Linked DNA regions of Homo sapiens: region 1 is linked to region 2. The links come from fine-mapping of genetic effects on gene expression. A gene starts in region 2. The other region holds a variant in brackets. All regions are shown on one strand. Distances are between the middles of the regions. Region 1 holds the start of TMEM121B (transmembrane protein 121B). Region 2 holds the start of HDHD5 (haloacid dehalogenase like hydrolase domain containing 5).

Evidence for each region. PIP is the estimated chance that this variant, and not a neighbour inherited with it, causes the effect.
Region 1: its variant is fine-mapped to the expression of HDHD5 in whole blood (TOPMed, PIP above 0.99).

Annotation. Positions count from the first base shown.
Region 1 is chr22:17,118,027-17,122,401 of GRCh38, reverse strand. It overlaps TMEM121B (transmembrane protein 121B), which reads left to right and starts at 1,042. Exons shown (of 1, transcript NM_031890.4): 1 at 1,042-4,375. The coding sequence starts at 1,275. The coding sequence ends at 3,011. It overlaps LINC01664 (long intergenic non-protein coding RNA 1664), which reads right to left and starts at 807. Exons shown (of 4, transcript NR_103793.1): 1 at 363-807. RefSeq lists an enhancer at 84-615 and a silencer at 1,201-1,330. The variant C/T (reference allele first, on the strand shown) is at 2,620.
Region 2 is chr22:17,156,843-17,161,217 of GRCh38, reverse strand. HDHD5 (haloacid dehalogenase like hydrolase domain containing 5) reads left to right here and starts at 1,941. Exons shown (of 8, transcript NM_033070.3): 1 at 1,941-2,092. The coding sequence starts at 1,967. It overlaps HDHD5-AS1 (HDHD5 antisense RNA 1), which reads right to left and starts at 1,829. Exons shown (of 2, transcript NR_024483.1): 1 at 1,381-1,829. RefSeq lists a silencer at 1,930-2,259.

The DNA of each region.
Region 1 (4,375 bases), 39 kb after region 2:
GCCCCAACTGCTCTAGTCATTTCCTTCTCCCTTAAACCCCTAAAGGCAGCACTCTACCTTCTGCCTTCCAGAGTTGCTGCATCGACATCCATCCCCAGCCTTGGATGAGTCCTGGGGTGAGCTGGTGTGCTCTCTCCTGAGACTGTCTACGCAGGGCCACTGACTGCATTCCTTCCTTGGTGTCTCTGTCTACTGTGGTGGGCTGTAACCCTCACCATCATCCCTTTGGAGCCTTTGTTTTCATCCAGGTGCCCACACCTCTAAATGCCCCTTTATTTTACTCTCTGCTAGACACATCTTCCTATTACGTCCCATTCTGCTTTAAAAACCTTTGAGAAGCCCGCTGGGCGGATGCCACTTGCCCAATCTCGTTCCCTCGTCTCTCCTCCCAGGCAGGTGTTTTCAGGGAACTTCTCCATCCGCTGGAATCGGGTCGTCCCTGAGATGGCTCGCGACCCCAGGGCTGGGTACATGGATATTTAGGACTATAGGTCTGGGGCTGCTGCCCGAGCCCTTTTTGCCAACATGGCCTGACTCCTCCACTGGTTTTTAGTGCCTTAGGGAGAGGCGGATGGCCCCATGGGAAGGGCGCTGGACGGAGGGTGGAGGCGAAGCTGCCCACTGCCTGCCTCAGAGCTGAGAAGGCCAGGTGCAAAGCCCGCCCTGTAGCTTGAGCCCATCGCTTGGGGGCACCGAAGCCATCTAGGTACTAACGCCCTGCGGTACAGCCGGTGGGATTCCCAGCGACTTCCTTAGGAGTCCGCGCTCCATGGGAGTCCCCCCGCACCGGGTCGCCTCGCCCTGGCGGCTGCCCGCGCCTCCTCCCGCTTCCTCCAGGCCACAGGGCTCCCGACCCGACTGTGACGCACTGCACCCCCGCCCCTTCTCTTCCCGTTGATCCAGCGCGCCGCGCTTTCTCCTCCTCTGGTCTCGCTGCTTCCTCTCCCCCTCGAATCCAGTCCTGGTTTCCCCGCCGCCAGCCTCCCTCCCTCCCGGCGGGACTCGCTCCCCGCCCCGCCCCGCCCCGCCCCCGCCTCGCCTGTCTTCACCGCGGTCCGCTCGGTTCACCGCCTGCCCCCTCTCCCTGCCGCCCGGCCCGGCTCGCCCAGTCCAGTGGCTCCAGTCCGGATCTCGCCGCCGCCCGGCCCAGGTGCGAGTCCCCACTGCTGGGGAGGCGGCGGGCCCCGGCTCCCCTCGGCCGCCTAGCCCGCCTCGCCCGCCCGGGGTTGGCGGGGAGGGAACAGCTGGGCGGCCCCAGAGCCCCTCGGAGGACAATGCGCCCGGCGCTCGGCCACCCTCGCTCGGTCTCCTCCGCGTCCGGTTCCTTCCCGCCGCCCCCGGCAGCCGCCCGGCTGCAGCCCCTCTTCCTCCGCGGGGGCTCCTTCCGCGGCCGGAGAGGCTCCGGCGACAGCAGCACCAGCACCAGCACCAGCCGCGGGGGAGGCGGCGGCAGACGCGGCGGGGGCGGCGGCTCCCCGAGCAGCAGCACGGGCGCCGAGCGCGAGGACGACGACGAGAGCCTCAGCGTCAGCAAGCCGCTGGTGCCCAACGCCGCGCTCCTGGGGCCGCCGGCTCAGGTGGGCGCCCCCGCCGGCCCCGCGCCTGTCGCCTTCTCCTCCTCAGCGGCCACCTCCTCCTCCACCTCCACGCCCACCTCCTCCTGCAGCATGACAGCCGCGGACTTCGGCGGGGGCGCCGCGGCCGGGGCCGTCGGGGGCCCCGGGAGCCGCTCGGCGGGGGGCGCGGGCGGCACCGGGACCGGCAGCGGCGCCTCCTGCTGCCCGTGTTGCTGCTGCTGCGGCTGCCCAGACCGCCCCGGCCGCAGAGGTCGGCGCCGCGGCTGCGCCCCCAGTCCCAGGTGCCGCTGGGGCTACCAGGCGCTGTCCGTGGTGCTGCTGCTGGCGCAGGGCGGCCTGCTGGACCTGTACCTCATCGCCGTCACCGACCTGTACTGGTGCTCCTGGATCGCCACTGACCTGGTGGTGGTGGTGGGCTGGGCCATCTTCTTCGCCAAGAACAGCCGGGGCCGTCGGGGCGGCGCAGCCAGCGGCGCGCACAACCACCACCTGCACCACCACCACGCCGCGCCGCCCCTGCATCTGCCCGCCCCCTCGGCCGCTACCGCTGGGGCCAAGGCACGCGGAGCCCGCGGGGGCGCCGGCGGCGCGGGGGGCGGCCTGGGGGCGGCCGCGGCAGCGGGCGAGTTCGCCTTCGCCTACCTGGCCTGGCTTATCTACTCCATCGCCTTCACTCCCAAGGTGGTGCTGATCCTGGGCACGTCCATCCTAGACCTCATCGAGCTACGCGCGCCCTTCGGCACCACGGGCTTCCGTCTCACCATGGCGCTGTCGGTGCCCCTGCTCTACAGCTTGGTGCGGGCCATCAGCGAGGCGGGCGCGCCCCCGGGATCGGCAGGACCCCTGCTGCTGCAGCCCCAGCGGCACCGCGCGGCCGGATGCTTCCTGGGCACGTGCTTGGACCTGCTCGACAGCTTCACGCTGGTGGAGCTGATGCTGGAGGGCCGCGTGCCGCTGCCCGCGCACCTGCGCTACCTGCTTATCGCCGTCTACTTCCTCACCCTCGCCTCGCCGGTGCTCTGGCTCTACGAGCTCAACGCCG[C/T]GGCCGCAGCGGCTGCATCCTGGGGCCAGGCCTCCGGGCCTGGCAGCTGCAGCCGCCTTCTGCGCCTGCTGGGCGGCTGCCTGGTGGACGTGCCCTTGCTGGCGCTGCGCTGCCTCCTGGTGGTCAGCTACCAGCAGCCCCTCTCCATCTTCATGCTCAAGAACCTCTTCTTCCTCGGCTGCCGGGGCCTGGAGGCCCTGGAGGGCTGCTGGGACCGGGGCAATCGGGCCTCCCCGAGTCGGGCCAGAGGGGGCTACGGTGCTCCGCCCTCCGCCCCTCCACCACCTCCGCCACCACCTCAGGGAGGCTCCCAGCTGGGCCACTGCATCTCGGAGAACGAGGGGGGTGCTCATGGCTATGTCAACACCCTGGCTGTGGCCTCTCAGAATTGAGGGTGAAGGGCACGGGTCCTTGTTTTTGGGTTGAGAGTCCCCAACCCCCTTGTCTTCTACCTTCTGTCACCTAGATTTGATCAGGGTCTATTTGGAAGAGGTAACCCTTTTCAGGGCTAAGGGCCAGGGTGTTCTTCTGCACCCTGGGGTGAGGACGGCTTGGAGGGAGACCAGCAGTTAACGGTGAGGGAGGTAGGTGCACTTACCCTCTCCTCTCTTCTCCTATCCTACCCCAATCCTGACCTCCAAGGGGCTGGTACCTCTGCTTCTTGCTTTGCCCACCTCCACTCTAATTCCCATCCATTAGGAGGAGAGGGGTGCTGGGCCTTGGACCTTCTCCCTTGCTTAGAAGTGCCAGCCTCTTTTAGGCTGTGGTTAGTGGCCATTGTCCCATGCCTTGAAATTGACCCAGAACCCACTTTCCACTGATGTGTCTCTTGGATTTCTTCCAGGTGATAGATACAAAGTGTATGTCTCTGTGTGTGTAGTGTTGTTTTCTCGTGTCCACCCTGTGGCCCTTTGCAATGGGTAGGAGATCTGGGGAGGCCCTGCCCCCTACACCATACTTATCACCACCCTCCTCTTTTCTGCCTGGATTTGTGACCATGAATTCCCAGGAAGAGCTGGGCCCCTGGGAGCTGCCCAGGTACTCCCCTTGAAGGGAGAATCTCACCCAGGATCTTCCTCAATACTGCTCCTCTCTTCTCAGCTCAGGGAGAGGAGGGGATCCATTCTCTAAGGACCAAACTGCACCCTTTCTTGGGTGAGTGAGCATTTCTACCTCCGTGCTTTCAACTTTTGTTGCATCATGCACTGATGCTGCTTGCAAAAAATGAAGACAAAATACTCAGAAGTTGCATTTGCCATGGCCACTGGCTCCAGCTGGGGTTTGGTGCCAGTGTTATTACAGGGTCTGCGGAGTATCAGCCATTGGCTTGGCCTCTCTCTGTTCCTCCCTCTGCACCTAGAACTCTTATCCTTCCTGTGGTTTGGTGCCGACTGGGTCGGATCTGGGCTTAGAGTAATAGCTTTGGTGGGTTTCCTGGATGGATGTGAAGTTGGGCCTCCCATGGGCCCAAGGGAGTAGGAAGCCCCATTCCCCACCTGTCCTTCCTCTAGGAAGTGTAGATCAGAAAGTGAGGTGGTGACCTCCCACCTCTGGTCTGGTTAAGAGTCTCACTAGGGCCAAGGCAGGCTGCAGAACTTTCCCTCTTCCTCTCATTGAGGGTGATGACAAGAGACATCCGGGGACTGTGCACTTACAGTCGGTGTGGAATGTCACTCTTGCAGTCTTTGAGGCAGGATAAGTATTTTTACATATTTTAAGGGTGCAGGAGGACAGCAGCTAACAAGGCCAGGAAATA
Region 2 (4,375 bases):
CTCGAGTACAGTGGCACGCTCTCAGCTCACTGCAACCTCCACCTCCCAGGTTCAAGCGATTCTCCTGCCTCAGCTTCCCAAGTAGCTGGGATTACAGGTGCATGACGAGCTAATTTTTGTATTTTTAGTAGAGACGGGTTTCGCCATGTTGGCCAGGCTGGTCTTGAACTCCTGATCTCAGATGATCCGCCTGACTTGGCCTCCCAAAGTGCTGGGATTACAGGTGTGAGCCACCGCGCCTGGCTATGCTTTTGAGGAGCCGATTGTCAAAAAAAACTGTGGGCATGTTTAAAAGCCATCATACCAAGAAATTTCTAATGACTAAATCAGTTTCTAGGTAGTTTAATAGAAGGAAGGGATTAGGAACATTGCAATCCTAGAGAGCTATGTCCCCTGGCAGGGTTTAAGTGTCGGGCTATTGTGAGTTTGACTGACTTGAATTAGTCTTCCAAATTCTGATTAGCTGTAGTTGAACTGAATTAAGATCTTGCCCTTCAAAGCTGAGGACCAAAGGACACCGCTAACTACTTCTTCATTTTATTATTATTATTATTATTTTTTTTTTTTTCAAGACGGAGTCTCACTCCGTCACCCAGGCTGGAGTGCATTGGCGCAATCTCGGCTCACTGCAACTTCTGCTGCCTGGGTTCAAGCGATTCTCCTGCCTCAGCCTCCCGAGTAGCTGGGACTTGAGGCGCCTGCCACCGCGCCTGGCTAATTTTTGCAGTTTTCAGCAGAGACGGGGTTTCACCATCTTGGCTAGGTGGTCTTGAACCCCTGACCTCCTGATCCACTCGCCTCAGTCTCCCAAAGTGCTGGGATTACAGGTGTGAGCCACCGCACCCGGCCCTATTTTATTATTTTTAAAATAGAGAAGGGGTCTCCCTATGTTGCCCAGGCTGGTCTGGAACTCCTGGACTCAAGTTTTCCTCCCACCTTGACCTTCCAAAGTTCTGGGATTACAGGGGTGAGCCACCGCACCCTGGCCTGCTAATGTGTGAGCTAGTGCAGTCTCTGTCCATATCCTCGACTCCCTCTCTGCTAGTGCTAAGTACATTGTAGGGTCCCGCGTTTTTAGCATAGCTATACCTATGAATGGGCCAAAGAATCTGAGGGCATCCTACACATTTCAAACGGTGGGAATGGAGACCTCTTTCCTCCAGCAGAATCTCCCCTCATGACCGGGGGACTACCAGATCCAGCTCTGCTAAGGGCCTCCACGGACGGAGTCGGCTACCTCTCCACTTTCAGTGACCGAAATCCATTCTTTGTTCATTCACCCTTGTGTCTACTCCGGGAAACGCGCAGCGGACACAGTCGTGTTCCCTAAGTGTTTGCTGACTTAGTCATCTGGCCCTCTCTGGAGTAGTCATTTTGTACCTTGTACTACATTCGTGCCTCTACCTCTCCGCAGTGCGCGCGGGGGCGGACTCACGTGCGCAGTCTCCCTATGCGCTGGGAGGGCGTCAGCAGGTTTACAGAAACAATGAAAGACTTAACAATTGGCGCGCGACGAGCGTCCCTTGACTGGCAGGGGCCCAGAGGACCTGAACATCACTAAGGGTCTGCCCCAGCGGCCCGGCCCTGAAGTCAAGGTTGAGACCCCCGGCCCAGACAGTCCGCGAAGCTGAGGGAGGCCGGCCTGGGGCCTGCCGCGCAATGTTACCGGGATCCGCAGGCACAGGGCGATAGTACGGACGCCGCCGCCCAGGCCGTGCCCATTGTGCGCCGCGGCCAGCTCACCGCGATCTCGGTCTAGGAGGCGGCGGGACCCCGCACTTCTTCCTTGCAACGGAGCCCCTTTGGCCTGCGGGTCGAGTTCCATAGGCGCCCGACGGGCTCCGCGCGCTTACAGGACTACAACTCCCGTGATGCCGCGCGCGCCGACCGCTGATTGGCTGTGCAGCGGACGGACTCGCGGGGGGGGGGGGCCGCACGCCGTGCACGTGCGCACGGCGACGGCCGGATGGCTGCGTGGGGCTGTGTGGCTGCGCTCGGCGCGGCGCGTGGGCTTTGCTGGCGGGCGGCGCGCGCGGCTGCGGGGCTCCAGGGCCGCCCCGCCCGCAGGTGCTATGCTGTGGGCCCCGCTCAGGTGAGGACGTCCGGGTTCTGGCCGAGCCACTCGCCACTCAGGGCCGGAGGCGGGGCGGGGAGCCGCGGGGAAGGAGGGGCGGCCGGGCTGGTATCCCAGCCTCCTGGGAACTGCCTGGACCGTCGTCGCGCCCGAGTGCATCGCGTTCTTGCTGGAGGGCGGATGCGCCCTGCCTTCCTCTGACTCGCTGGCGGCCTCGGAAACGCTACTCCCGCGGGAGAGCGCTCGTGGGACGGCCTGGGCCAGGCTGCTTGTCAGCCCCTGCGCTTCCCGGCAGTTTCCGCGTCCCTGTTTTCCCTGCGCGTCTTCTGATTTCCACCATGAGGACGTTTGGGTCGTGATTTTCATCTGCATGTGGAGGAAACTGGGCCGCGCGCCGGGAGCCGCGCCTGCGGGTGCTCCGCCCCCAAGTGCCTGTGGGTTTGGTGCGGGCCTTGGGTTCAGTTCAGCTCGCTGTGACCTCGACTGAGCGCTGGAGGCTCCGCGGGCGGGAGCAGGAGGGCTGGAGCCGGCGCCTGCTGTGTGCCCGGCGCGGTAGTGATGTGTGAGCCTCCCCGCAACTTCTGAGAAGGTGTGACCTTGTGTGGTCAGGAAGCCGAAGCTTGACGAGTTTTCAAGTACGTTTTCTCAGGTCCTGCAGCTGGGAGACGGCACAGGACACTAAACCAGGTTGGTCAGATCCACGGCTCTCACGCTCCCTTGGGCCGTTTTGCCTTTTCTGGAAAAAGGAATCACTTTGTCTTCTAAACGCACAAGTAATATTTTACATTAACATACGGATTTCACAGTAATCCTTGCATTTTTTTTTTTTAGACGGCATCTCTGTCACCAGGTTGGAGTGCAGTGGCGCAATCTCTGCTCACTGCAACCTCCGCCTCCCGGGTTCAAGCGATTCTTCTGTCTCAGCCTCCCGAGTAGCTGGGATTACAGGCACCCGCCACCACATCCGGCTAATTTTTGTATTTTTAGTAGAGACAGGGTTTCACCATGTTGGCCAGGCTGGTCTCGAACTTTTGACCTCAGATGATCCTCACATCTTGGCCTCCCAGAGTGGTGAGATTACAGGCATGAGCCAGTGCACCCGGCCAAATTACTTGCATGAAAAAAACACATAGTGCTTACTTTGTGCCAGGCACTATTCTAAGTACTTCACAGTTATTCGTATAATCTTTATAACAACTCCGAGGAAAGTACTATTATTAGTCTTCCCATTTTATAGATGGAGCAGAGGCACAGAGAGGTTAAGCAGCTTACCCAAGGGCACACAGCTGGTAAGTGGCAGAATCTGGAACTCAGGTAGTCTGGTGCCAGAGTCTAAGCTCTTAACAGCTGTATTATTTTTATGATTTTTAAATATGGAGCAGCTAAGGTTCAAAGCAGCTGAGTGACTTGGCCAGTGTCACATAGCTAGACGTGACCAAGGTGGAAGTTTGAAATTAGAATATGTTGATAAAAGGACTTACAAACTGTCAGGATATAAATATAAGGAAATATCGCCCTTATTTATAACTGTTGTATTGGCTCTAGCATCTCTGCAGAGTCCCGAAATGTCTCCAAGTGACTCTTCCGGTAGAGCAGAAAAAGAAGAATGCAGGATGACAGAGTTTGAGCACGAGCTTTAGAATTGAATCCTGTGCAGTCTGTTAGCGGCTTCACTTAAGGCAATTTACATAGCTTTCCAAGCTCAGTTTCCCCATCTATGTAATGGATCTATTACTTGTAATCCCAGCTACTCGGGAGGCTGAGGCAGGAGAAGCCCTTGAACCTGGGAGGGAGGTTGCGGTGAGCGGAGATCGGGCCATTGCACTCCAGCCCGGGCAACAGATCCTGACTCTTATCAAAAAAAAAAAAAAAGAAAATTAACCTTAGTTTAACTTTCTTGCTTTACCAAGTTTTTAATTTTTAAAATTTTTTACTCTTTTGTAATAGCACTTAGTTTAAAACACAACACATTGTACAGCTGTACTAAATATATCTTCATTTATATCATTGTTCCATAGCTTTTTTCTTTTGTGTGTGTGTGTGTGTGTGTGTGTGTGTATGTGTGTGAGACGGTGTCTAGCTCTGTTGCCCGGGCTGGAGTGCAGTGGCGCCATCTCGGTCCACTGCAACCTCTGCCTCCCAGGTTCAAGTGATTCGCCTGCCTCAGCCTCCCAAGTACGTGGGATTACAGGCGCCTGCCACCACGCCCAGCTAATTTTTGTATTTTTAGTAGAGACGGGGTTTCACTGTGTTGGCCAGGCTGGTCTCGAACTCCTGACCTCATGATCCGCCTGCCTTGGT